7 linked regions of the Homo sapiens genome follow. The protein of the gene in region 7 purifies or fractionates together with the protein of the main gene of each other region. This does not show direct contact. Each region holds a gene or a part of one and is shown on either strand. Other genes may lie near its edges.

What was found.
Region 1: the proteins of SLC2A7 (region 7) and TM9SF2 purify together in Homo sapiens (affinity purification with mass spectrometry; one large-scale study listed by BioGRID and IntAct). This does not show direct contact.
Region 2: the proteins of SLC2A7 (region 7) and ERGIC2 purify together in Homo sapiens (affinity purification with mass spectrometry; one large-scale study listed by BioGRID and IntAct). This does not show direct contact.
Region 3: the proteins of SLC2A7 (region 7) and ATP13A3 purify together in Homo sapiens (affinity purification with mass spectrometry; one large-scale study listed by BioGRID and IntAct). This does not show direct contact.
Region 4: the proteins of SLC2A7 (region 7) and LMBR1 purify together in Homo sapiens (affinity purification with mass spectrometry; one large-scale study listed by BioGRID and IntAct). This does not show direct contact.
Region 5: the proteins of SLC2A7 (region 7) and RABL3 purify together in Homo sapiens (affinity purification with mass spectrometry; one large-scale study listed by BioGRID and IntAct). This does not show direct contact.
Region 6: the proteins of SLC2A7 (region 7) and ATP2B3 purify together in Homo sapiens (affinity purification with mass spectrometry; one large-scale study listed by BioGRID and IntAct). This does not show direct contact.

The regions. Positions count from the first base shown.
Region 1 is NC_000013.11:99,542,972-99,546,471, forward strand, and holds part of TM9SF2 (transmembrane 9 superfamily member 2 precursor), read left to right. Parts: intron 1-891; coding exon 892-1,024; intron 1,025-3,500. UniProt on the Homo sapiens protein: In the intracellular compartments, may function as a channel or small molecule transporter.
Region 2 is NC_000012.12:29,340,013-29,343,172, reverse strand, and holds part of ERGIC2 (endoplasmic reticulum-Golgi intermediate compartment protein 2), read left to right. Parts: coding exon 1-53; intron 54-1,356; coding exon 1,357-1,439; intron 1,440-1,954; coding exon 1,955-2,017; 3' UTR 2,018-3,160. UniProt on the Homo sapiens protein: Possible role in transport between endoplasmic reticulum and Golgi.
Region 3 is NC_000003.12:194,445,503-194,449,002, reverse strand, and holds part of ATP13A3 (polyamine-transporting ATPase 13A3), read left to right. Parts: intron 1-366; coding exon 367-546; intron 547-993; coding exon 994-1,151; intron 1,152-1,887; coding exon 1,888-2,076; intron 2,077-3,500. UniProt on the Homo sapiens protein: ATP-driven pump involved in endocytosis-dependent polyamine transport. Uses ATP as an energy source to transfer polyamine precursor putrescine from the endosomal compartment to the cytosol.
Region 4 is NC_000007.14:156,722,184-156,725,683, reverse strand, and holds part of LMBR1 (limb region 1 protein homolog), read left to right. Parts: intron 1-158; coding exon 159-249; intron 250-1,505; coding exon 1,506-1,572; intron 1,573-3,500. UniProt on the Homo sapiens protein: Putative membrane receptor.
Region 5 is NC_000003.12:120,736,017-120,739,516, forward strand, and holds part of RABL3 (rab-like protein 3), read right to left. Parts: intron 2,652-3,500; exon of another isoform or gene 2,511-2,651; intron 1-2,510. UniProt on the Homo sapiens protein: Required for KRAS signaling regulation and modulation of cell proliferation. Regulator of KRAS prenylation, and probably prenylation of other small GTPases. Required for lymphocyte development and function. Not required for myeloid cell development.
Region 6 is NC_000023.11:153,576,642-153,580,035, forward strand, and holds part of ATP2B3 (plasma membrane calcium-transporting ATPase 3), read left to right. Parts: intron 1-3,336; coding exon 3,337-3,394. UniProt on the Homo sapiens protein: ATP-driven Ca(2+) ion pump involved in the maintenance of basal intracellular Ca(2+) levels at the presynaptic terminals. Uses ATP as an energy source to transport cytosolic Ca(2+) ions across the plasma membrane to the extracellular compartment.
Region 7 is NC_000001.11:9,012,924-9,016,423, forward strand, and holds part of SLC2A7 (solute carrier family 2, facilitated glucose transporter member 7), read right to left. Parts: intron 2,320-3,500; coding exon 2,194-2,319; intron 1,946-2,193; coding exon 1,758-1,945; intron 713-1,757; coding exon 602-712; intron 1-601. UniProt on the Homo sapiens protein: Probable sugar transporter. Even if its physiological substrate is subject to discussion, it is able to transport glucose and fructose. Does not transport galactose, 2-deoxy-d-glucose and xylose.

The sequences.
Region 1 (3,500 bases), on a different chromosome or scaffold from region 7:
TCAGAGGCTTTACAGTGGCTTCTAAGGCCCCACGTTACCTCAGCACTCTGCTGCACCTGTGCCGGCTACCTTGCTGTTCCTCAGACCAGGCAGACATAGGTTTCCACCTCAGAGCCTTCACGAAGCTCACTGTTTTATCTGCTAAGAAGGTCTGCCCCTCATTTACATGGCTAGTTCCCTTACCTCCCTCCGATCTTTACAAAATGTGATCTTCCCATTGAACCCCTCCCAGCCATCACATATGTTACATCCTGTCCTGCACACACCCATACATCCTGTTTTTCTGTACAGCGCTTATTACCATCTAATGTACAGTATACTTTCCTGACTTATTTTGTTTATTGTCTGCCTTCCCAATGAGATCATGTACTCCTGAGAGTAGGAATTTTTCTGTTACACTCACTGTGGTATCTGGTGTTTTAAACAGAGCCGAGCTTATAGTTGGTGCTCAATGAATGTTTACATCCATGCTTACTGTATTAGCAAAGTAGCTAGAATATGAGAGCTAATGCCATTTGCTTATTGTGGAGATCATTAAGAGTAGGATGAAGAGGATAGAATGTGACTAAAAATCGTCATCAAGTCAGATCACAAAGCTTGACTTAGAGTAGAATTAGGTAGCAATCACATTGTCTTTGTAAAGTTTCTCAATAAGTATATTTGTAGACCTTAATGTCATAAATTTAAGAAACTGACATATAAGACAGTTCAGCAAAGCCATATTAAGCTCCATGAGTCAAGCTGTATTCTTCAAAATTGAAATAGGTACTAACATTTTTAAGTTTAAAAAAAACCTGTTTTCTGTAACAGCATATTCAACAGTGAACAAACTGTCTATAGTTGTCTTGTTGATACCATGAGACAATCGAACTGATTTCATTCCCCTTTTAGGAAGATGCCCAGGAAGAATTTGGCTGGAAACTTGTTCATGGTGATATATTCCGTCCTCCAAGAAAAGGGATGCTGCTATCAGTCTTTCTAGGATCCGGGACACAGATTTTAATTATGACCTTTGTGACTCTATGTAAGTGTTAACTGAAAATTTTCAAGTAGAAAATACTTTCTAAATACAGTAATTGCTTAAAAACCAGTTTTTCTGGCCGGGCATGGTGGCTCATGCCTGTAATCCTAGCACTTTGGGAGGCCAAGGCGGGTGGATGACAAGGTCAGGAGTTTGAGACCAGACTGGCCAATATAGTGAAACCCCGTCTTTCTACTAAAAATACAAAAACTGGGCATGGTGGCAGGTGCCTGTAATCCCAGCTACTTGTGGGGCTGAGGCAGTAGCTTGAACCTGGGAGGCGGAGGTTGTAGTGAACTGAGATTGCGCCACTGCACTCCAGCCTGGGTGACAGTGCAAGACTCCATCTCAAAAAAAAAAACAAAAAACACCACAGTTTTTCTAAGTGGGTAGGTAAGCCAGATTATTTCTGAGCATCCTTTAGGTTCTCAAAATCTAAGTGACTTGGGGCAGGTTTAGTTGCACCCAAAGACTGACTCTTGGTTTCTCCCTTCAGCTCTTCCTAGACCAAGCCTTTGTCAGGGAGGCACTGGGCTGGAGATGAACAGGTCCTTAAGACCATCAGCATCTGAGTCTAAACAGCCCAGAACTGGGACCATTTAGGGTCTCTTTTACCCAGGCATCGTGGGCAGGCACAGTCTGGTTAGGGTTCCAGGATATTCTTGGCTTCCACGGAGGGAGGAGGGTGGGAAAAGAAGGGATGGGGCAGGAAGCACTGTGTAGATCCTTCTCATCTGGGGAGGATTTGGGAAGCAGGATCTCTCTCCTCTAGGGAAAGCGAGTGTGTAGGAAAGACCTTCCTTCCTCCATAAAAAGATTCTCTTCTTTGAGCTACCTCAGCGACTTCAGAAATTGTATTTAAATTTTTGCCAACTAGGACAATTTTTTTTTTTAAATAAATGTTCCTTAGAGGTATTGATAGCCACAGGGATTGTTCTGAAACTACCTCTGGGTATATGTTAATTCCACTGTCTTCCAGTTTCCTTAATTGGAAGATAAAAAAGGTTTATGAATAGAATTTTCTAAATTTTACCTTTATTTAATGTATTTTACTTTATTGATGCCTGCTACTGATAAATAGCAACAAATGAATATACTGGGAGAATTCAGAAACTAACCTTTAATAATTTTTTAGTAAACATTTATTTTTTATGTTTGATTACATATTAAATACATAATACCACAGTTATTTTTGTTAGTAAAGTTGTTCCAAATTTTTATGATAAAATTAATTATATAAATGCTTTGCAAAGAGCAGTATCATTTTCAAATGTCTGGCACTGAATAAGTTTGGGAACCAAACTCACACCTTCAGGTTCAGTTTGAAGACTGACTAGGATATCTTTTTTTTTTAATCTACTAACAACTTAAGGAGATACAATTTTGATAGGTAGAGCTAGAATTTGTAACTATATCATACTAAAGAGAAGTTAAGTCATACTAAAGAGAATAGGTCAGGAAAAGGTGTCATAAAAAAGGTTTGGACAGAGGGTGGTAGGGTGAAGGCACTGGGTGACAGAGAGCCAAACTAGACTTAGAGCAGAATGAATGTTTGAAGATAAACTTCTGCTTTCTTTCTTTCTTTTTTTTTTTGAGACGGAGCCTCGCTCTGTCACCAGGCTGGAGTTCAGTGGCGTGATCTTGGCTTACTGAAACCTCCACCTCCTAGGTCCAAGTGATTCTTCTGCCTCAGCCTCCTGAGTAGCTGGGATTACAGGCGCCTGCCACCACGCCTGGCTGATTTTTGTATTTTTGGTAGAGACACGGTTTCACCATGTTGTCCAGGATGGTCTCAATCTCTCAACCTCGTGATCCGCCCGCCTCGGCCTCCCAAAGTGCTGGGGTTACAGGCGTGAGCTACCACACCCAGCCAACTCCTGCTTTCAAATCTTATTAGGAGCTGTCTTCTGCGATGCTCTGGTTTTTATTGCGGTCAGCTAGAAAAGTGAACTTTTAAGGAAGGAAAGTTTCAGAGAGTCTAGGATAGAATACGATGGGAATAATTTTCCTTAAGTCCTCAAATAGGAACTTTCTGCCGAAGGGCAGTCCATTTTTCAGGTCGAGGAGGAGAAAGGGGTTGCATTTTAGCTGAAATCTTGTACATCTTCTAAAGCTACCCTGATGTGTTTCCTGCTCATCATGACTCTGGTGCTTGTCAGAGGTGTGTGCGCGTGCTTGCTCACATACGTGCTTGGTCATGCACGTTTTAGGGGAAACAATAGGGGGGGAAACAATGGGGATTTTCTTGCTGAGCCTCCTGAAACTCAGTTCTCAGCAGTATCCTACTCACCTTGGGATTCTGAGCACCTTATAACTTCTGAGCCCCAGCTTAAAGCTGGGAATTTCTATGAATATAATATAGCATTTTAATTCTCATTAGTAGGAAGGCTTACATAGGGAAGAGCAAACAAAGCTAACCACGTGAATAAGGTAGGGCCAGGGTTTCCCCGTATTGCTGACAAGGTCCTTCCGTAATTTG
Region 2 (3,160 bases), on a different chromosome or scaffold from region 7:
GCAGTTTTTTGTAAGACTCTGTGGTATTGTTGGAGGAATCTTTTCAACAACAGGTTAACAACCATTTCCTTTTTGTCTAATTTCTGAAAGTGTTGCTTATACTTAAGTTGCTTCTTCTCAAAGGGGCAAGAAGTATACAGATTTTCATGTTTCGGTGTTTAAATAGCTTTTGCTTTAATTACAAAACTCCAAAATTATATTGACTAACCAGTAAACATAACTAATTTCATTGTATTCAATGATGTAAGGTAGATTATATAATGGTGAGTTGGAAAGATCCTGGGTGTTAACATCAGATTGAAGTAGAATTGAATGTAAGTTCTGTCATTTACTTGGTGGTAGCTTGGAATAGATCACCTACCTTTTCTGAGGTTTTCTAATCAGTAAAAATAGCAATAATAATACCTAATTTGCAAGTGTGCTATAGGATTAAATATGAAAATGCCTAGAAGGCATTTAAGACATTTTTAACTGTACAGTATGTAAAATCATATGTTATAGTACTTTGAATTATGCAATACATGAAACTAGATTTGTAATCAGTAACATGTTTATGATTTTTGTCCTGAGATCCTGGAATTCGCTAAGATTATTTGTCGAATTGTAATGATGAAAATTGGGAGTTAAGTACAATAGAGAAAAAGGAAACAATTCTATTTTCATCTTCAGTCCTTATTCAGTATTAGATGGAGCTGGGTAGTTTATTATACTTAGAATCATATTTTTAAATGAATGAATAGCTTTTCTTTCGAAATTCTTTGTTAGTGCTTCATTTCAATCTATTTAAATTTGTGTTGTTGACATCATTTATTTTCCAAAATTGTATTGGTGTGGGAAAACCTTGAAAAGATTGTGTTTAGGCCCGGTGCAGTGGCTCATGCCTATAATCCCAACACTTTGGGAGGCCAAGGCTGGCGGATCAACTTGAGGCCAGAAGTTCCAGATCAGCCTGGCCAACATGGCTAAACCCCGTCTCTACTGAAAATATAAAAAATTAGCCGGGCATGGTGGTACATGCCTGTAATCCCAGCTAATTGGGAGGCTGAAGCACAAGAATTGCTTGAGCTGGGAGGTGGAGGTTGCAGTGAGCCAAGATTGCACCACTGCACTCCAGCCTGGGCAACAGAGTGAGACGTCTCAAAAAAAAAAAGATTGTGCTGAGATCGTGAATTATGTGGCCTTGTGACTTTGAAAAGAAATCCATTTGTTTTAAAATCTTTCTTGATTATTTTTAACCATGGAAGTGAATAATGCAAACTGCTTTGTTTTCTTCCGTAATCTATTCCATTATAGTTATTTATTCTTAAATAACAGTTTAGGAAATAATTAAAAGCATAAACTTATTGTTTATTACAGGCATGTTACATGGAATTGGAAAATTTATAGTTGAAATAATTTGCTGTCGTTTCAGACTTGGATCCTATAAACCTGTCAATTCTGTAAGTGGTGTAGTATACATGGTGCTGATCTCTAAATCTTAGAATCATTGTTAAGTCTATGAGCCAGTCATGGTGGCTCACACCTGTAATCCCAAGACTTTGGGAGGCTAAGGCGGGAGGATCGCTTGAGCCCAGGAGTTTGAGACCAGTCAAGGCAACATAGTGAGAGCCCCATTTCTACAAAAGATAGAAAAAATTAGCTAGGCAAGGTGGTGCAAGCCTGTAGTCCCAGCTACTTGGGAGGGCACAGTGGGAGGATCACTTGAGCCCAGGAAGTTGAGGTTGTAGTGAGCTATGATCGTACGTACCACTGCACTCCAGCCTGGGTGACAGAGCAGACCCTGCCTCAAAAAAGATAGAGATAGAGAGATAGAGAAATAGGGGGAGAGAGAGAGAGAAATAGTAGCTTTTGGTTACTAGAAAGGATTGCCCAAAATAAAACCTTGTGTTTAGAGGAAAGAGTATAAGGAATAAAACTAATTCTTTGGTCTTTTTTTCCCTCCTTTTCTCCTTAGGTTCCTTTTGAGGATGGCCACACAGACAACCACTTACCTCTTTTAGAAAATAATACACATTAACACCTCCCGATTGAAGGAGAAAAACTTTTTGCCTGAGACATAAAACCTTTTTTTAATAATAAAATATTGTGCAATATATTCAAAGAAAAGAAAACACAAATAAGCAGAAAACATACTTATTTTAAAAAAGAAAAAAAAGGATAAAAAAACCCAAACTGAAATTCTATATACGTTGTGTCTGTTACAAATGTCGTAGAAGAAATCATGCAGCTAAACGATGAAGAAGCCCAACTGGAGTGTTGCTTTGAAGATGACGCCTTCTTATATTTTCATAGCAAATGGGTGGTATCAAAATCAGACATTGCTTCTTGCTGATAAAAAGCCTGAAGGAAATAAGTGAAACTACATCTATGGGAAAAAAAAAAACATTGAGAAGTGCAAATGTTCGCATCCTTTTGTTTTTAAAAGATATGATGTCAGAATAAAATGTGGAAAACATACGGAAAACTAGTCTAGACTTTAAAGAATTGTGATCAGGTCACATTGTTAATAAAAAAAAAAAACGGGCTAGTCCCTATGTTATAGCCATATTAATGTTAAGCCATATTGACAAGACCAGTTATCCAATAATTTGGTCTTAAAAAGTAACTACTTTTCTTTGAACTCTGGTTATTGACTTATCTAACTGTTGAAGATAGAGTCTTAGAAGACTAAGGTAAATTCTCACAGGGGCAGATATGTAGGTGTTATGTAACTAGGGTGTCATTCACAAATGGTATAGTAGAATCTTATACACGGAAAAGAAAGCACATTTTTTTAAAAAAGATGCCAAGTTTTTTAATCTAATCATTATATTATTGGTGTATTTTGGGCAACATAGGGTGAGTTATAAAAAGATCCGCTACTGATAGTGAAAATTACCGGTTTGTAAAACATTAAGAGAAAAAATAGGATATTTTATACATGTGGTGAGTGGAGAACAGGGTAACTTTAAATGAAAGTGTAAGGCAAATTGTAAGCACCACAAGATATATCAGATTTGAGAGGTGCCATGTTAAACATTGTCCATTAAACTATAAAACTGTATTATGAAGTATTTGCATTCAGGGTGTCCTGAATATGATTGATTCTGTATTAGATTGTGTTCTAACTTTCTTACTATTTAAGGATTGGTTCTAAATCTTCACATTATAAAAGATTAAA
Region 3 (3,500 bases), on a different chromosome or scaffold from region 7:
GCTTTCCACTGTTACCATTAGTTCTTAGAGGTGCAGGGACTATAGCAACTACTTAATCTTTTTTGAAATTATTTGAAACTGAACAATGCAACTGTTTCTAAATATAAACAAATATTACCTTTGAGCCACAAATCACTTTCTGGAATTATTGTGGGAGATAATATTTGATACTTCTATGTGAGGAAATTGGTAGACAAAAAATTAAGCCATGTTGTCCACATATACAACTCTCAGTGATTATTGTAAACAGTATGGTAGCATTTAAAATATTTAACAATTTAATATTTTTTGGTGTTCGATACTGATTCCTGTGCTTTCGTTTAATAATTTGTAAACTGTTTTTGTTGTTGTTGTTGTTTTTTAAAGGAGAAAGTGTTCCAGTGACAAAGACTAATTTGCCAAATCCTTCAGTGGATGTGAAAGGAATAGGAGATGAATTATATAATCCAGAAACACATAAACGACATACTTTGTTTTGTGGGACAACTGTTATTCAGACTCGTTTCTACACTGGAGAACTCGTCAAAGCCATAGTTGTTAGAACAGGTAGGAAACATCTTAATTAATCTCTTTTTGCATGTTTCAGCATATTTGATACCTACTAAATGTTTAAAAAGAGATTCTGGGCTGGGTGCTGTGGCTAACGCCTGTAATCCCAGCACTTTGGGAAGCCGAGGTGGGCGGATCATGAGGTCAGGAGATTGAGACCATCCTGGCTAACATGGTGAAACCCCGTCTCTACCAAAATTACAAAAAAATTAGCCGGGCCTGGTGGCGGGCGCCTGCAGTCCCAGCTACTCGGGAGGCTGAGGCAGGAGAATGGCGTGAACCCAGGAGGCGGAGCTTGCAGTGAGTCGAGATCACACCACTGTACTCCAGCCTGGGTGACAGAGCGAGACTCTGTCTCAAAAAAAAAAAAAGAGAGATTCTGTTTTGGGAGATAATTCTCATTTTCTTATAAAAATATCAATAATTGTCTTCTTTTTTTGAAAGGATTTAGTACTTCCAAAGGACAGCTTGTTCGTTCCATATTGTATCCCAAACCAACTGATTTTAAACTCTACAGAGATGCCTACTTGTTTCTACTATGTCTTGTGGCAGTTGCTGGCATTGGGTTTATCTACACTATTATTAATAGCATTTTAAATGAGGTATGTATGTGGGACTCTTAATAGGGTTTGAACCTCAATTATTTATCATATGCAGCTATTGAGGATTTGAAATGTGGCTACTGAGAATGAGGAACTAAAATTTTAAGCTAATTTAATTTTAATTAATTTAATGCTAACAAAGTCATGAGACTAGTAGCTATGATATTAGAAAGCCCAGCTATAGAACATTTCCATTGTAAAGGATACTTCTTTTGGGTGCCTCTGGTTTAGATGGTCTTTTACTTGGTCTTGTGACTTTAAAAAAAAAAAACAGGAAAAAAAACCCCCCCACATAATCACCAAAAGCTTTATTTTCTCTTTTTTACCTCTGAGATGTAATATACAGTGTTAAAATGATTTGTGGTTAGTTAATTGAAGGCGCCGCTTGTCAGAAGTGGAGAGTGGTACAGTAAGGTGTGTGCACGCTGAGTCAATATCTGATAATGATTGTTGACCGGCTTTGAAGTGTGTCATGTGTGAAGTATGTAGCGCCTTGAAAATGAGATAAGTTTCTTTTGAAAGTAGCTGTCATTCTATAATCCATTGAGCTTTTTTATTTTGCAGAAATATCTGAAGAAAAAAATTATATATGGTTAATAGATATGTATATACACACACATACATAAAATTGAAATATACAATTGAAAATGGCTTACAGATTTTCACTAAAGAAATACCCATATTAAATCCGTAAATAATACTGGGGATTTGACATTTATTTTTGTGTTAATTGTAGGTACAAGTTGGGGTCATAATTATCGAGTCTCTTGATATTATCACAATTACTGTGCCCCCTGCACTTCCTGCTGCAATGACTGCTGGTATTGTGTATGCTCAGAGAAGACTGAAAAAAATCGGTATTTTCTGTATCAGTCCTCAAAGAATAAATATTTGTGGACAGCTCAATCTTGTTTGCTTTGACAAGGTGGGTTCAGTTTCATAGTTACTTTCAAAGGTTACTTCGTAGCGTTTAAATATTTAGATCAATGTTTTTTATTTTCTTTGTCAACAAATTTGGACACATTCTGTCATGTTCCTCTAATTTTCCTTTTCCTCCACTTATTTGGTATATGCATCATTTTTCTATACCATAAGTTCTCACTTAACATTACTGATAGGTTCTTGAAAACTGCAACTTTAAATGAAATGAAACCAGTTTTACCATAGGCTAATTGATACAAATGAGATTTAAGTTCCTATGCCATATTTTGGTCACAAAAAATCACCAAACTTCTAAATAAAGATCTAAAACACTTCTGATATTAATCATTGAAATAAATATGAGCTATACATTCATTTAAGAAAGAAATAAAAACAAGTAAGGTAATTATTTACCCAGTTGTTTTATTTCAGGCTCCTGGGTAGTGGGAGCGTATCTCAGCAACTGGCGGAACGAGGCAGGAACCAGCCCTAGACAGGATGCCATCGTATCGCAGGGTGTACTCACACTCGCGCAGACTGGGACCATTTAAATGTGCTGGTTCACTTAACTTGCGTAGCTTTGATGTGGGAGGAAACTGAAGTACCTGGAGTGAAACCCATGCAGACAGGGAGAGAACATGCAAACTCCATGTAGATAGTGGTCGCGGCTGGGCCTCAGCTCTCCCCACCACTGGCACCCATCGTGTTATAAAAAAAGACGGACAAAACAATCGTATTTGAGGACATGCTATATTTCTTATTTTCTCAATTTTTAATACTTTGGATATTGCTTATTTGCTCAAAGCTTCAGTTAACTCCAGAATTAGGCCTAGTAGTATTAATAGTAGTAGCAGTAAAGATTACGTGACCTTTAATTTTTTAGACAGTAATTCTTATTTAACACAATAGGCTCCATACATATATATTTATTATGATTTTATTGCTTGTAAGTGTGTATGTTTAGTGTTTGCTGTATGATTTTATTGAATATGTTTAAGAATTATGAAGGTCACTGATTTTATGTGAAAATGACAAATTATGTACCTGTGTGAAGTATATCTTGCCTCTTAGAAAGGTTTCTCCTTTCCTGAGCTGGAATTTTCTTTAAAGTTTTCTGAGAATTAAACTTTGACCAGAAAACCTTCTATCAAACTTTTCTGGGTAACTGATGTGATACAAATTTGATTTTTGTGCATTTCATTATTACAGAAAAAAATGGGAAACATGTTCTGTTAGAAAAAAATATGTCACATACTGCTACAATTATTTCATATTTATCAGTTCAAAAAATTTCACTTATGCTTGTCTTTTTTGGAAACTTTCCTAAAAGTTTTAAGACAAAAGTGGAGAAAAGATGTGTGTATAATAAACACTCATTTACTCATTACCCAGCTTTATCAGTTATCAACACATTGTCAGTCTTATTTT
Region 4 (3,500 bases), on a different chromosome or scaffold from region 7:
CACTTGTCTAGAAGAGAAAACAACAGGTTAGTCTTCCTCAAGCACTTAAAGCGGCTTTTTGTTTTGCTTTTCCTATGGGCCTTAAGACTTTTTGGAGACTGCCGAGAACTTAGGAAACTTGCATTCTGTTGGAGAGTTTTTTTCCTTGATTCTCACAGCTATCTTATGGTGTCCTCTGTTGTCGGCTTCTATAGCCTTCGATTTTTTGGAAACTTTACTCCCAAGAAAGATGACACAACTATGACAAAGGTAAGGTAGAATCTTAGGTGACTGTGGCCTCTCGTTTGCCTTCCCTGACAGACTGCTTTATTTAATAGTCATTCTGAATGGTTCATTTGCAGTGATAGGTATTTGTTTGTAAGTTGCGTAAACACAAACTGGAAGATTTTCAAAATGCTGAGTGAGTGGGAAAGGGATGTACCCTGTTTAATTTGGATGGCGTCCATTCACTGTAAATGCGGAGAACTGCAGAGCTTGTTAACTAGCTATAGAAGGCTCCTGAAAGGACTCTTTTTCCTCTAAAGAAAACGTATTGCTAATGAGTAACTTGGATTGTGCTAACTGTACTTCAGGGAGCTTGTTTGAAGTCTGAAGAACTTAGTTGCTACAAGTAGTAGGGACAAAGTATTTCAAATTTGAATAATTAAAGTAAGACGGAAGAGTTCTATTCAGAAACATTTTGTAGTCTGAGGCTAATTTGACTTTTTCCACAACATGTCATTGGGTTCAGAATAAAAAGGCTGTTGCCGTATATAGTGACTGAATCTTTATAAAATATTCCCGTAGGCTGACAAAGAAGAATAACTAATAAGAGCTGAAAGCTTGTTTTGTTTTTATTTTATATTTTTAGCCTACTTAAAGGGGAGAAGTTATTTTACACACACACACACACACACACACACACACACACACACACACAGCTATTTCTTTAAACTTAATAAGTAGTTGAGATATTTAGTATCTAGTTTAAGTGATCATAAATATTAATTGATATTTTCAACTCCTCTTATTTACTATGGAAGAATAAACATGGGATGCATTATTACAAAAGTTTAGAGGTTTTGGATTTCTGGTGCTTTTTAAATCTTACAATTAACATTAGAAATAGATGTGATAAAAGAGATCTTAAGCAATAATCTGGCCTTAAAAATGTAGTCAGAAGTATCCAATATGTTAATTATTTTTTGCTTGACAGGCAGAGCCTTTTGAAAGTAACAGCTGCAATCAGTAATGTAAAGTGCATTATCTAGGTGTCAAGTAATTTAAGTATTCTATAACTATATCTGTGCTAGGTACTGTAAACATCTTCTAGAACTTACAGATATAACTTTATTTATTTTAAAAGTGTGTTATTCTTTGAAAATTCTGTACTGAATAGTATCATTAAGAAATCGGCAAAGTACACTAGGTAACTAGAATGCACAATCATTTCTCAGAATGTTACTGGGTTTGATTGTCATCCTGCTGTTTAACTGCCCAATATTCTTTCTCGTTTCTCATAACAGATCATTGGAAATTGTGTGTCCATCTTGGTTTTGAGCTCTGCTCTGCCTGTGATGTCGAGAACACTGGGTAAGTTTCAGTGAGAAATTTTCACTTAAAGATCCATGTTTTTAAAAACTGTCTTTACTGAACTTATTTAACATTTACTCATAAAGATTACCTTTGAAATACAGTGTTTCTTCCTACATTATTTTACACTTTTACTTCTATACTTTATGTATAGGGGCATACCAAGACAAATACTTTTATCAAATAATGACTACTTATTTTTTAAACACTTAAAAGCATTCTTTCTCCAAACAACGGGCTGGTTTTTGTTGTATTTTGTTTTTACTGACACATCTATAAGTTAGGCTTTCGAGTCCTCTAGTGAGGAAACTGCATTAAACTAATTTTTCTATTTAAAAGCTTTTGAGCGTTTATAATTTAGTATGGTTTAAAAAATTGAAAATTTGTAAATTATTTTAAGCTGCTTTGTGTCCACAAAATAGAGGTGAACGCAGTGTAATCTCTGAGAACACACTCTGATTCAAAGGACACCCTTGAGAGTTCCTACTTGCCTGTCATTCATTTCTGTCATTTTCTTATTGTTTCAGTTTACGGAGAATTTGATAATCTTTTAAAAGAAAAACAGATTTTTGCTTTGTCATTGAAATAGTTGAGTAAGTCTTCCCTTAGTTGTCTTTTATAAAATGCTATTGTAGACCATATTCTGAGTTCTTCACTAAATATTATTTCAGACAAAAGTTTCCATTAAGCATTTCTATCTAATTCTCTAGACTTAGGTTTTGACTTAAGAGTGCACACGAATGATTGGAAAATTTTGATCATTAAATTTTAGCTACTTGCTCATAACAAAAATTGCTGGTAACTTTGAGTTGCTTTTGCATTAGCTCTCATATTGCCTCCATTATTTATTGAAGACTTACAGATACCAGGGATGCAGGCTGTGCAAAGAAAGTAGAAGCTTTGTAGTTATCTTCATAATTCTTACAAAGGATTTCATGTTTGTAATAGAAAACAAAAAGTATAAATGTAAAGGGACCACTGTTCCATAAGCTAATAAAAAACTGGTGTGTGTAATAGTCTTATTTCTTTTGTGTTTGCTTTATAGGACTTGTAATTGTTTTGACATCTGCTTATGTGAATCTTGAAAATGCCAAAAGTATGCTCTTTAGCAACCTGATTTGATGTTAAATGTTATCATTTATATTATGACAGTCTATTAAATAATTTCTGTTATATTTCAGCCAACCTATCATTTTAATACTTAGGAAACTCATTCACTGTACTATTATTTAAGATTGATTGCTAATCATTAATATATACCGATTTTATGGAAGAAAATTACATGCTGAGTATAGTTTTAACACAAAGAAAACAAACTAATGGTAAAATTTACTTTTTGAAGGCCAACAAATTAAATTCCAGAGTAGTTTGCCATAGAGATAAATAAAAAGAAAAAAAAGAAAGATGGAACAATTAAAATGCAGCTAACAAATGCCTGGACCCAGCTGTCCAAACAGGATTAATGGAGTGCATTAGGGTACAGTGAGTCATGTGGTGCTTTGCAAAATATCAACACGCACTGCATTACATGTTATGCCCAGTGGCATTGAATAGATGAAAAGAAATAAATACGTTAAACAGATTCATAGAGGCTTTTCACAGTATTAAAAAAGCAAATTTCTAGACTAAAAGAAAAAGCTTTATTTTAGCATTATGGGAAATGCAAACTAGAGAGTTACTTTGTAATTCCTCTATTAACCCTTTAGAATTGAGTCTTTGATTTTAAGAAGATAAAATATAGGGAATTGTCATGAATATTATCCTAGTGTATAACAGGATTTTGATTTACCAGCTGAAAAGCTTATAAGACTAGAATAGAGGATGTATTTAAGCAATCAGATTCCAAGCTGTGACATTTTTCAGTCTTTCTTGTCGCCTCTCTCAAGGAAACCCTGACCTTAGTGTGGTCTCCTTTGCTCCTGTGAAAT
Region 5 (3,500 bases), on a different chromosome or scaffold from region 7:
TCTGTTGATTTGGGATGGAGAGTTCTGTAGAGGTCTATTAGGTCCGCTTGGTGCAGAGGTGAGTTCAATTCCTGGATATGCTTGTTAACTTTCTGTCTTGTTGATCTGTCTAATGTTGACAGTGGGGTGTTAAAGTCTCCCATTTTTATTGCGTGGGAGTCTAAGTGTCTTTGTAGGTCTCCAAGGACTTGCTTTATGAATCTGGGTGCTCCTGTATTGGGTGCATATATGTTTAGGATAGTTAGCTGTTCTTGTTGAATTGATCCCTTTACCATTATGTAATGGCCTTCTTTGTCTCTTTTGATCTTTGTTGTTTAAAGTCTGTTTTATCAGAAACTAGGATTGCAAACCCTGCCTTTTTTTGTTTTCCATTTGCTTGGTAGATCTTCCTCCATCCCTTTATTTTGAGCCTATGTGTGTCTCTGTACATGAGCTGGGTCTCCTGAATACAGCACACTGATGGGTCTTGACAATTTGCCAGTCTGTCTTTTAATTGGAGCATTTAGCCCACTTACATTTAAGGTTAATATTGTTATGTGTGAATTTGATCCTGTCATCATGATGTTAGCTGGTTATTTTGCTCATTAGTTGATGCAGTTTCTTCCTAGCCTCAATGGTCTTTACAATTTGGCATGTTTTTGCAGTGGCTGGTACCAGTTGTTCCTTTCCATGTTTAGTGCTTCCTTCAGGAGCTCTTTTAGGGCAGGCCTGGTGGTGACAAAATCTCTCAGCATTTGCTTGTCTGTCAAGTATTTTATTTCTCCTTCATTTATGAAGCTTAGTTTGGCTGGATATGAAATTCTGGGTTGAAAATTCTTTTCTTTAAGAATGTTGAATATTGGTCCTCACTCTCTTCTGGTTTGTAGAGTTTCTGCTGAGAGATACGCTGATGGGCTTCCCTTTGTGGGTAACCTGACTTTTCTCTCTGGCTGCCCTTAACATTTTTTCCTTCATTTCAACTTTGGTGAATCTGACAATTACATGTCTTGGAGTTGCTCCTCTTGAGGAGTATCTTTGTGGCGTTCTCTGTATTTCCTGAATTTGAATGTTGGCCTGCCTTGCTACGTTGGGGAACTTCTCCTGGATAATATCCTGCAGAGTGTTTTCCAACTTGGTTCCATTCTCCCTGTCACTTTCAGGTACACCAATCAGACATAGATTTGGTATTTGCACATAGTCCCATATTTCTTGGAGCCTTTGTTCGTTCTTTTTACTCTTTTTTCTCTAAACTTCTCTTCTCACTTAATTTCATACATTTGATCTTCCATCACTGATACCCTTTCTTCCAGTTGATCAAATCGGCTACTGAAGCTTGTGCATCATCACGTAGTTCTTGTGCCATGGTTTTCAGCTCCAACAGGTCATTTAAGGACTTCTCTACATTGGTTATTCTAGTTAGCCATTCAGCTAATCTTTTTTCAAGGTTTTTAGCTTCTTTGCAATGGGTTTGAACTTCGTCCTTTAGCTCGGAGAAGTTTGATCATCTGAAGACTTCTTCTCTCAACTTGTGAAAGTCATTCTCCATCCAGCTTTGTTCCTTTGCTGGCGAGGAGCTGCGTTTCTTTGCAGGGGGAGAGGTGCTCTGATTTTTAGACTTTTCAGCTTTTCTGCTCTGTTTTTTCCCCATCTTTGTGGTTTTATCTACCTTTGGTCTTTGATGATGGAGTCGGACAGATGGGGTTTTGTTGTGGATGTCCTTTCTGTTTGTCAGTTTTCCTTCTAACAGTCAGGACCCTCAGCTGCAGGTCTGTTGGATTTTGATGGAGGTCCGCTCCAGACCCTGTTTGCCTGGGCATCAGCAGCAGAGGTGGCAGAACAGCGAATATTGCTGAACAGCAAATGTTGCTGCCTGATCATTCATTCCTCTGGAAGCTTTTTCTCAGCGGGGTACTGGGCCATGTGAGGTGTCAGTCTGCCCCTACTGGAGGGTGCCTCCCAGTTAGGCTACTCGGGGGTCAGGGACCCACTTGAGGGGGCAATCTGTCTGTTCTCAAACTCTGTGCTGGGAGAACCACTACTCACTTCAAAGCTGTCCGACAGGGACATTTAAGTCTGCAGAGGTTTCAGGCTATGCCCTGCCCTCCGAGGTGGAGTCTACAGAGGCACACAGGCCTCCTTGAGCTGCGGTGGGCTCCACCCAGTTCGAGCTTCCTGGCCTCTTTGTTTACTTACTCAAGCTTCATCAATGGCGGGCGCCCCTCCCCCAGCCTCACTGCCACCTTGCAGATCTCAGACTGCTGTGCTAGCAATGAGCAAGGCTCCGTGGGTGTGGCACCCTCTGAGCCAGGTCAGAGATATAATCTCCTGGTGTGCTGTTTGCTAAGACCATTGGAAAAGCACAGTATTAGGGTGGGAGGGACCCAATTTTCCAGGTGCTGTCTGTCACCGCTTCCCTTGGCTAGGAAAGGGAATTCCCTGACTCCTTGCGCTTCTTTGGCTCACACACAGTGGGCTGCACCCACTGTCCTGCCCCCACGGTCTGACAAGCCCCAGTGAAATGAACTTGGTACCTCGTTGGAAATGCAGAAATCACCTGTCTTCTGCGTCGCTCACGCTGGGAGCTGTAGACTGGAGCTGTTCCTAATTGGTCATCTTGGAACCACTCCCTTAATTTTAAGTTCCTTGAGGGTTCTTACGCAGCTTTTTTATCTCTAGTATTTAGATCAGAACCTTAATTAGTATTTATTAAAAGTTTCCATATTATTCCAAAATCTTCATAAACATTTAAAGTATCTCCATAGTACTTCAGAAAGTAGGCATAAAAATTTACTTAATCATTCTTCCATTATTATTAGATATTTAGGGTGTTTTGAAATTTTTGATATGCTAGTGAAAGGTTATTTCTGTTTAAACCTTTGTTTAAAATTAAAATTATGTCCTTAGTATACCTTCCCAGGAGTAAACTCAGTACTTAAAAGGAAACATTTAAAGTTCTTGATATGCATTGAGAAATAACTTTCATGGGGTTATACTGCCACCAGCCATACACTTGAGCCTGCAGGTCTTGTTGCACCTCAACAGTATCATGTAGTTGGCTTTTCATCCTTGTTAACCTGATAAAGGAATAAAAGTGACATCTTGGCCAGGTGCGTTGGCTCACACCTGTAATCCCAGCACTTTGGGAGGCTGAGGCAGGCAGATCACGAGGTCAGGAGTTCGAGACCAGCCTGGCCAAAATGGTGAAACCCTGTCTCTACTAAAAATACAAAAATTAGCTGGGCGTGGTGGTGGGTGCCTGTAATCCCAGCTACTTGGGAGGCTGAGGCAAGAGAATCACTTGAACCCAGGAGGCAGAGGCTGCAGTGAGCCGAGATTGCGCCACTGCACTCCAGCCTGGGTGACAGAGCAACAATCCGTCTCGGTGGTGGCGGGCAGTGGGGGAGTGACAGCTTGCTTTAGTCTGCATTTCTTTACTTTCTGATAAAGATCAAAGATTATCATTATGATTATTCTGGCAAATCAGTTGTTTTTCCTCTCATAAATTCTCTGTTGATCTACTC
Region 6 (3,394 bases), on a different chromosome or scaffold from region 7:
TATAGACAGCATTGACAGCCCTGGGGGCCATGAGATTCCTTTGGGAGCAGTAGGGGGCGTGGCGCGTCCTGGGCTGAGAGCAGAGCAGGAGGCGGTGCAGGAGCCTGAGATGAGGACAGAGTGAACCCAGGCTGGTGGAAGGAGGGCATCCTTGAGCACCCAGGTAGGAGTGCAGCCCTCTGGGATGGGCCTCTCTTAGAAACGTTTGTTGCTTTCCATTGAACCAATCTCCCAGGAATCGACTGCATCCTTCAGTGTTGGGTGGGCTGAAAACACCCCACCTTAACACCAACACCAAAACATTGTTTAATGGCCCAGGATTAGGATGCAGGGAAAATAGAGCCTGGAGAAAGCTGACTCACTGTCAGCTGTAACAGACTCACCAGGACTCCAGCCAAGCTTAGCACCCCCAAACAGCAGAATGTTGGGGGGCAGCCCTTCCATCCTGCAGCGGTTCACTCAGTCACTTGTGCATTCCCCAAGTGTCTGCTGAGCAGCTGCTCTGGGCCAGGCTCTGTTGTTAAGCCACAAACAAGGCAGATGCCATCCGGGAGGGGCACGCTGGAGTAGCCGGTGAGACCGGAGGAGCAGTAGCAGCAGAAGCCCAGCCTGGAAGGAAGGGCTGGCTCCGTGGCCTGGCTGTCCTTTATGGAGGTCTTTGGAGTTGAGCCAGGTGCAGTGAGACCTGTGCATAGGTTTGAGCAGGGGCCTGGCCTGATCACATGCCCCCAGGTCTGAATGAGGCCACCAGCTCAGCGAGATCTCACCCCACACAGCCCTGGGGTCAAGGCCTGCAGCACTTTGTCCTTTTTGTGACTTGATGGGCAACAGCTTTAGCAGGCGATGTCCCAGGCGGCTTCCACACCACAATCCTGTACCAGAAAAGGCCTAAATAATGAGGCAACATCTGCATTGGCTACGAAAACTGAATTCTGTTTCTTTTCATTAAAAACGTCAAATTATTCTCAATTTCTGTGTTACCCCTAATTCAGAAACCAGTCTGGGGATAAAGGCCTGAGTGAGAATAGCTGACCATCTGCCGTCTGGCAGATGTGGCTTTCCCGAATGCAGAGAAAATCCGAACCAGATTTCAGATGGGGTGCTAGAAAATTCCAATGTGGAGCTTTTTGGCTTACTTTTTTTTATTATTATTTTAAATAGGAACGGGGAGTATCACTCTGTTGCCCAGGTTGGTCTCGAACACCTGAGCTCAAGCGATCAGCCCGCCTCGGCCTCCCAAAGTGCTGGAATTACAGCCGTGGACCACCAAACCTGGCCCTGGCTCACTTTTTGCACTGGAGAGGTGATGAGGTTGGCATCATTTCAGCTGATTCCGAAGCACTGTGCTTTGCCTAGCTGAGCCCCTGGAGGGCTGAAAGAAAGTCACCGAAAAAAGGTGATTAATTGTCTAAACGACAGAGCCAGAGAGGAAATATTTTTAGCTTTCCAGGCCTGGTCTCTGCTGCCGTGACACAACTGTGCCCTTACAGCATGAAACTTAAACCAGTAAAATTTTATTAACCAAAACTAGCAGAGAGCTGGGGTTAGCCCCTCAGCAAGCCCTGACACCTTGTCTAAACCCAGAAAACCAAATCCTAGGTCGAACCTTGGCCCCAGAAATGCTTCAGAACTCCTAATGTGTCCACCTGCTCACATAGGCAGGGGTGGACAGGTGTTGGATGAACCCCAGGGTCTGCCTGGCAGCTCAGCGCTCCGTCTGCTGCCCCCTATAGGGATGGCAGTACAAGGTGGGCCAGCTACCATTGGCGGCTGTGCTGACACTGGCCTGTGCGAGGCCAGGCAGAGGCCTCCCCATCAACTCCTGGCTTCTAGAAGCAGGAGGGGGCCCAGGCTGAGGGGCCAGGGAGCAAAGAGAGGCAGCAAGGACTTGAGTGCGTGAGGCAAGGTGGAGAAGCCAGAGGAGGGAAGGGCTCGCTCCTGGAGCAGTGCCCTGCCGGAGGGTCAGGGGGCTTAAGGGCTGCCGTGCGCTCAGCTGGGGGCAGAGGGCCACTGTGCCGGGGGAGTCTGGGGCACAGCGGGAGCTCTTTCATGCGGGAAGTTCCGCTGATCTGAGGTCTGCAAACTCCTGTGGGGAGGGATGGCCAGGGAACAACACAGAGCGGAGCCCGGGAGGCAGCAGAGACGCAAGTTTTGGAATGTCTGACTGGAAGATGGAGGAGGAGACGGGAGAGAGGACAGGCGGAGTGAGGTCAGAAGAGCAGGGGCACCAGATTGAACCAGACCCAGTCAGACACGGGGGCTGTGAGGAGGCCACAGGGGCATCTGAGCAGAGACAGGCTTTAGTGGGTGCAAATCAAAAGTGTGGCCATTTTCGGTCTCAGATACCTCCAGCTGGGGACTGCTGGGCTCTCTGGCCTGGAGCTCTGAGTACAGGCCTGGGCCACAGTTTCTGGTTATAGCCAGATGGGCCCCAGCACTGTGGCCAGGGTGGAGAGGTATGGACAGAGAGGAGGAGGGACAGAGCCAGGCCAGAGCTCTGGGGCACCCAGGGACAGAAGAGAGGGCAGTGGAGGAGATGGGGCCAGGGCAGCTGGTGAGGTGGAAGAGGGCCAGGCAGGGGCAATGTCAGGAAGCCATGAGAAGCTTCCAGAAAGAGGGATGATCTTCTGTGTTGAGTGCCCTGAGGGATCAAATCAGACGAAGATGCAGAAGTGGCCAGTGGAGTTAGCCGCAGGGAGACCCTCGACATGGCAGGTCCCGGCTCCAGCCATGGGAGCTGGGGGATGGAGGGAGACCCATGCGAGAAAGGCCGGCAGTGCCCATAGGCTGGGAACTTGCTCATACCAGCAGGTACTTCGGACTTTCTGGTAAGATCGAGAAGACATCCCACTCACCAGCATTCTCTCCTTTTCAAATCATCTTTCTTTTCTACCAAATTGGAATTCAGATTGGGCAGAGACCCCAGAGGTCACCAAAGCCACTCGTCTCCCCAGGACAGGGAACTGCGGGGTCACAGCCAAGAGCCTAGTGCAGCACTCTCAAGTTCCAGAATACCTGCCCAGCTCAGCCTAGAGAAAGACACTGCCATCTTTTCCTGCATGCGGATCGGTTGACGAGACCAAGGCCCACACCTGAAAACTCTTTCCAAAGGCAGGCAGAGCCATCCCATTCCGTAGCAGCCCTCCAACAAATGGGTGGACATTTCTCATGCCATGACCCCCAGCCATTGACGTGGGTGGAATTTACCAGCACCAGCCGGCCACTGACTGTCTCCTTCCTTCCTTCCTACCTTCCTTCCACGTTTCCTTTCCTTTCCCTTCCTTTCCTCCCTCCCTGCTCCCACCTCGCGCCCTGTCCCTCCACCTCCCACTCCAGATCCGGGTGGTGAAAGCGTTCCGTAGCTCGCTCTATGAAGGCCTGGAGAAACCAGAAT
Region 7 (3,500 bases):
TGTCACCCAGGCTGGAGTGCAGTGGTGCCATCTCCCTGCTCACTGCAATCTCCACCTCCCAAGTTCAAGTGATTCTCCTGACTCGGCCTCCCAAGTAGCTGACATTACAGGTACCCACCACCATGCCCAGCTCATTTTTGTATTTTTTAATAGAGATGGGGTTTCACCATGTTGACCAGGCTGGTCTCAAACTCCTGACCTCAAGTCATCCACCTGCCTCAGTCTCCCAAAGTGCTGGGATTACAAGTGTGTGCCACCACACCTGGCTAATTTTTTTGTATTTTTAGTAGAGACTGGGTTTCATCATGTTGGCCAGGCTGGTCTCAAACTCCCTGACCTCAAGTGATCTGCTCGCCTTGGCCTTCCGAAGTGCTGGGATTACAAGTGTGAGCCGCCGCGCCCGGCCGGCTCTGAAGGAATTTTGAGTTTTCTGGTCAAAGTCATGCAGGTAGTTAGTATGTGTGCATCCTAAAGTCCATGTCCCTTAAATGACCCCAGGACCAGGGCCACCAGCACTCAGTTCACTCTGTGGGGCTCCTGTCTGCCTGGCGGCACCTGGCCAGAGACCCTCCAGCAGGAAGGATGCCTCCTGCTCACTCACCGAGGTGATGGTCATCACTATGTTGACGACGCCAGAGCCCACCGTTACATATTGGGAGTGAGCGGCCTCCACGCCCGCAGATGTGTAGATGGTGTCCGCATAGTAGTTGATCTAAACAAAAACACAGGGCTGTCAGGACAGGCCGGAAGACCCAGGACGCTGGCTTAACTTTCTCAACTCAAGCCACACACAGTTCTGCAAGCCTGGGTTGGGGACCCTGGGACAGGAAGAGGGTAGCAGGTGGTGGGAAAAAGAGGCCTGACCTGGAGTCGGGACACCAGGGTGGAGCCCGGCGCTGCCCTGGAATCCAGGGTCGCAGCTCCTCCCTCTCTGGGCCTCAGGTTTGGCGTCTATAAAATGGAAGTCAGACCATACGACCTCCAAGAGCACTTTTCCCTCCATCATTCAGTTACTCTAAGAGCTCAGATCCCAAAGAATGACTTCTTACCTCTCACTCTGGGCCAAGCCAACCGCAAGTTGAGTCTGTCTTCTGGCCCCATGCCAAGGACATTGGCACAAACAGCCCTTTGAAAGGCCACGTGTGCTATTCCACATCTGGTGGCTCCCACCTGGGCCATCTACCCTCCCACGATCACTGGTTAAACATCCATGAATCCCTGAGGCCAAGGCCACCTCTTCCCGACACGCCACTGGAGCAACTGGGTCACCCACCCAATCTCCAGTGTTTTAGCTTCTGTCAGATCTCCACCCTTCCCTCACACCATGGTTAGATACAGTTACAGCCAAAGAGCCACGGTCGCAGAAAGCGATGCCACAAACATCACAGACAAGTGGGCCCAAGATGGGCTCCTGACACAGGCTGGGCCTACCAACCCAGGCCTGGTGACCTGAGCTTGGACCCAGGAGACCTCAGCTCATCTCAGTCTAGCTGGTCTCTTGTATAGAAGGGAAAGGACTATTGGCAGGAGGCATTCCTTCTGGGGACTGGGAAACAGAGAAAAATGAAGCTGGCATGTGGGGAGAGGCAGAGCACGGAGGCAGAGAGGAGTGAGGTTTCTTCCTGACATCTGGCTCTGCCTGGACTGATCCTGGCCCCACTGCCAGGCCAGGCCTCTGTGGGTGGAACTGTGTGTTGCTATCCATGAAGCCTGGGTCTGCTTCATCTGTCTCCCTGCCTGGCCACCGTCCCACATACCGCATTGATGCCCGACAGCTGCTGGCCGGCCATGAGCACGATGATGGAGAGGAGCTGCCAGCGCAGGGACCGCAGGGCACAGAGGTGCAGCACAGACAGGTGGCCCTCGGCGCGCTCGGCCCGGGCCTCCGCACGCATGTCCTCCAGCTCGGCCTCCATGTCCGTGTGGCCTCTCAGCCTCCTCAGAGCTGCGGAAAGCAGAACCACCCGCTCAGAGGGCCGTCTCCCTGCAGGCTGGGCCCCAAGCCCCCATGCTGGCCCTGAGCTCACCATTCCCTGACCTGACCTTGGTTGTGCCCCAGTTGCCACCCCCCCACCCCGTTCAGCTCCCAGCTCTCACCCCTGACCCATGGCGACCCTGACTGTGGCCCTGACCGTGTCTCTGCCTGGCCCCCGGGGTGGGCAGGGCCTGGGAGAGTAGCCGGCGACTTCATACCTTGTCGCGCTGTGGCTTCATCTCCTTTCTGAATCAGGGAGTAGCGGGGGCTTTCGGGGAAGAAGGGCAGGGTCAGCAGCTGCAGCAGGGCGGGCACCCCTGTGAGCGCCAGAAGCACCGGCCAGCCTGCAAGGAGCCAAGGACTCAGGATCCCGGGGCCTGGGCACCCCCTGGCCCACCTACCACTGTGCTCGGAAGGTCACGCTCCTATGTGTGAACCAAGGACTGTGGGGACTTCATTCTCACCAGGGTACTCCTACAAATGGTTTCCACATTCAAAACGGAGGGAATCATGAGAGTTATACAAATTTACACGTCATTAATTATTTTGCAGGAAGAACACCGTTTCTCTAAAGAATAGGCAATGATTTAAACACTTGAACCCCGGAGAAAATGAGCTCAGTCTTGTTCCTACTTTTATAGCAGGAAAGGGGATAATCTCTGCCTCATTAGGGCCATGGTAGGGCAGGGCCTGGACCCTGCGCTGGGTCTGAGTGAGCTCCTTCTGGATGGCTTGGCCTAAGGAGGGGAACTGAGATTCCACTAAGAGAACAGGGTCTCCGTCTGCCTCCCACCCCTGCTGGTATGGTGGGAAGTGGACAAGTTCTTTTTTTTTTTTTTTTTTGAGACAGAGTCTAGCTCTATCAGCCAAGCCGAAGTGCAATGGTGCGATCATAGCCCACTGCAACCTCAATCTCCCAGGCTCATGTGATCCTCCCACCACAGCTTCCTGAGTGGCTGGAACTACACGCGTGCATTACCGCACCTGGCTCATTTTTTTTTTTTTAATTTTTAGTAGAGACAGAGTCTTGCTATGTTGCCCAGGCTGGTCGTGAACTCTTGGGCTCAAATGATCCTCCTGCCTTGGCCTCCCAAAATGCTGGGCATGAGCCACTGCACCCAGCTGACAAGTTCTTTAATGTCTCTGAGCCTCAGGCAAGAAGTGGCGAGGGCTGAATGAGGCACAGGTGCTAAGCGTCATGCACGGTGGATTCCCCAGCTGATGTCTCTCTAATTGACGATTTAATACTCAGCGGCTCTGGGAGTTTAGGAATCATTACTGTTAACGATCTTTCATGGAGCACCCTCCAGGTTCTGAGTCTCTGAACCTCTTCAGGGTACTGTGGGGACCACAAAGACATAAATCCACCCATTAAGGAATATGTGCAGAATTTGGGTCATTCAGAAATGTCTGTAAAAAACCCCGGCCGGGCATAGTGGCTCATGCCTGTAATCCCTTCACTTTGGGAGGCGGAGGCAGGAGGATTACTTGAGCCCAGGAGTTACAGATCAGCCTGGACAACATA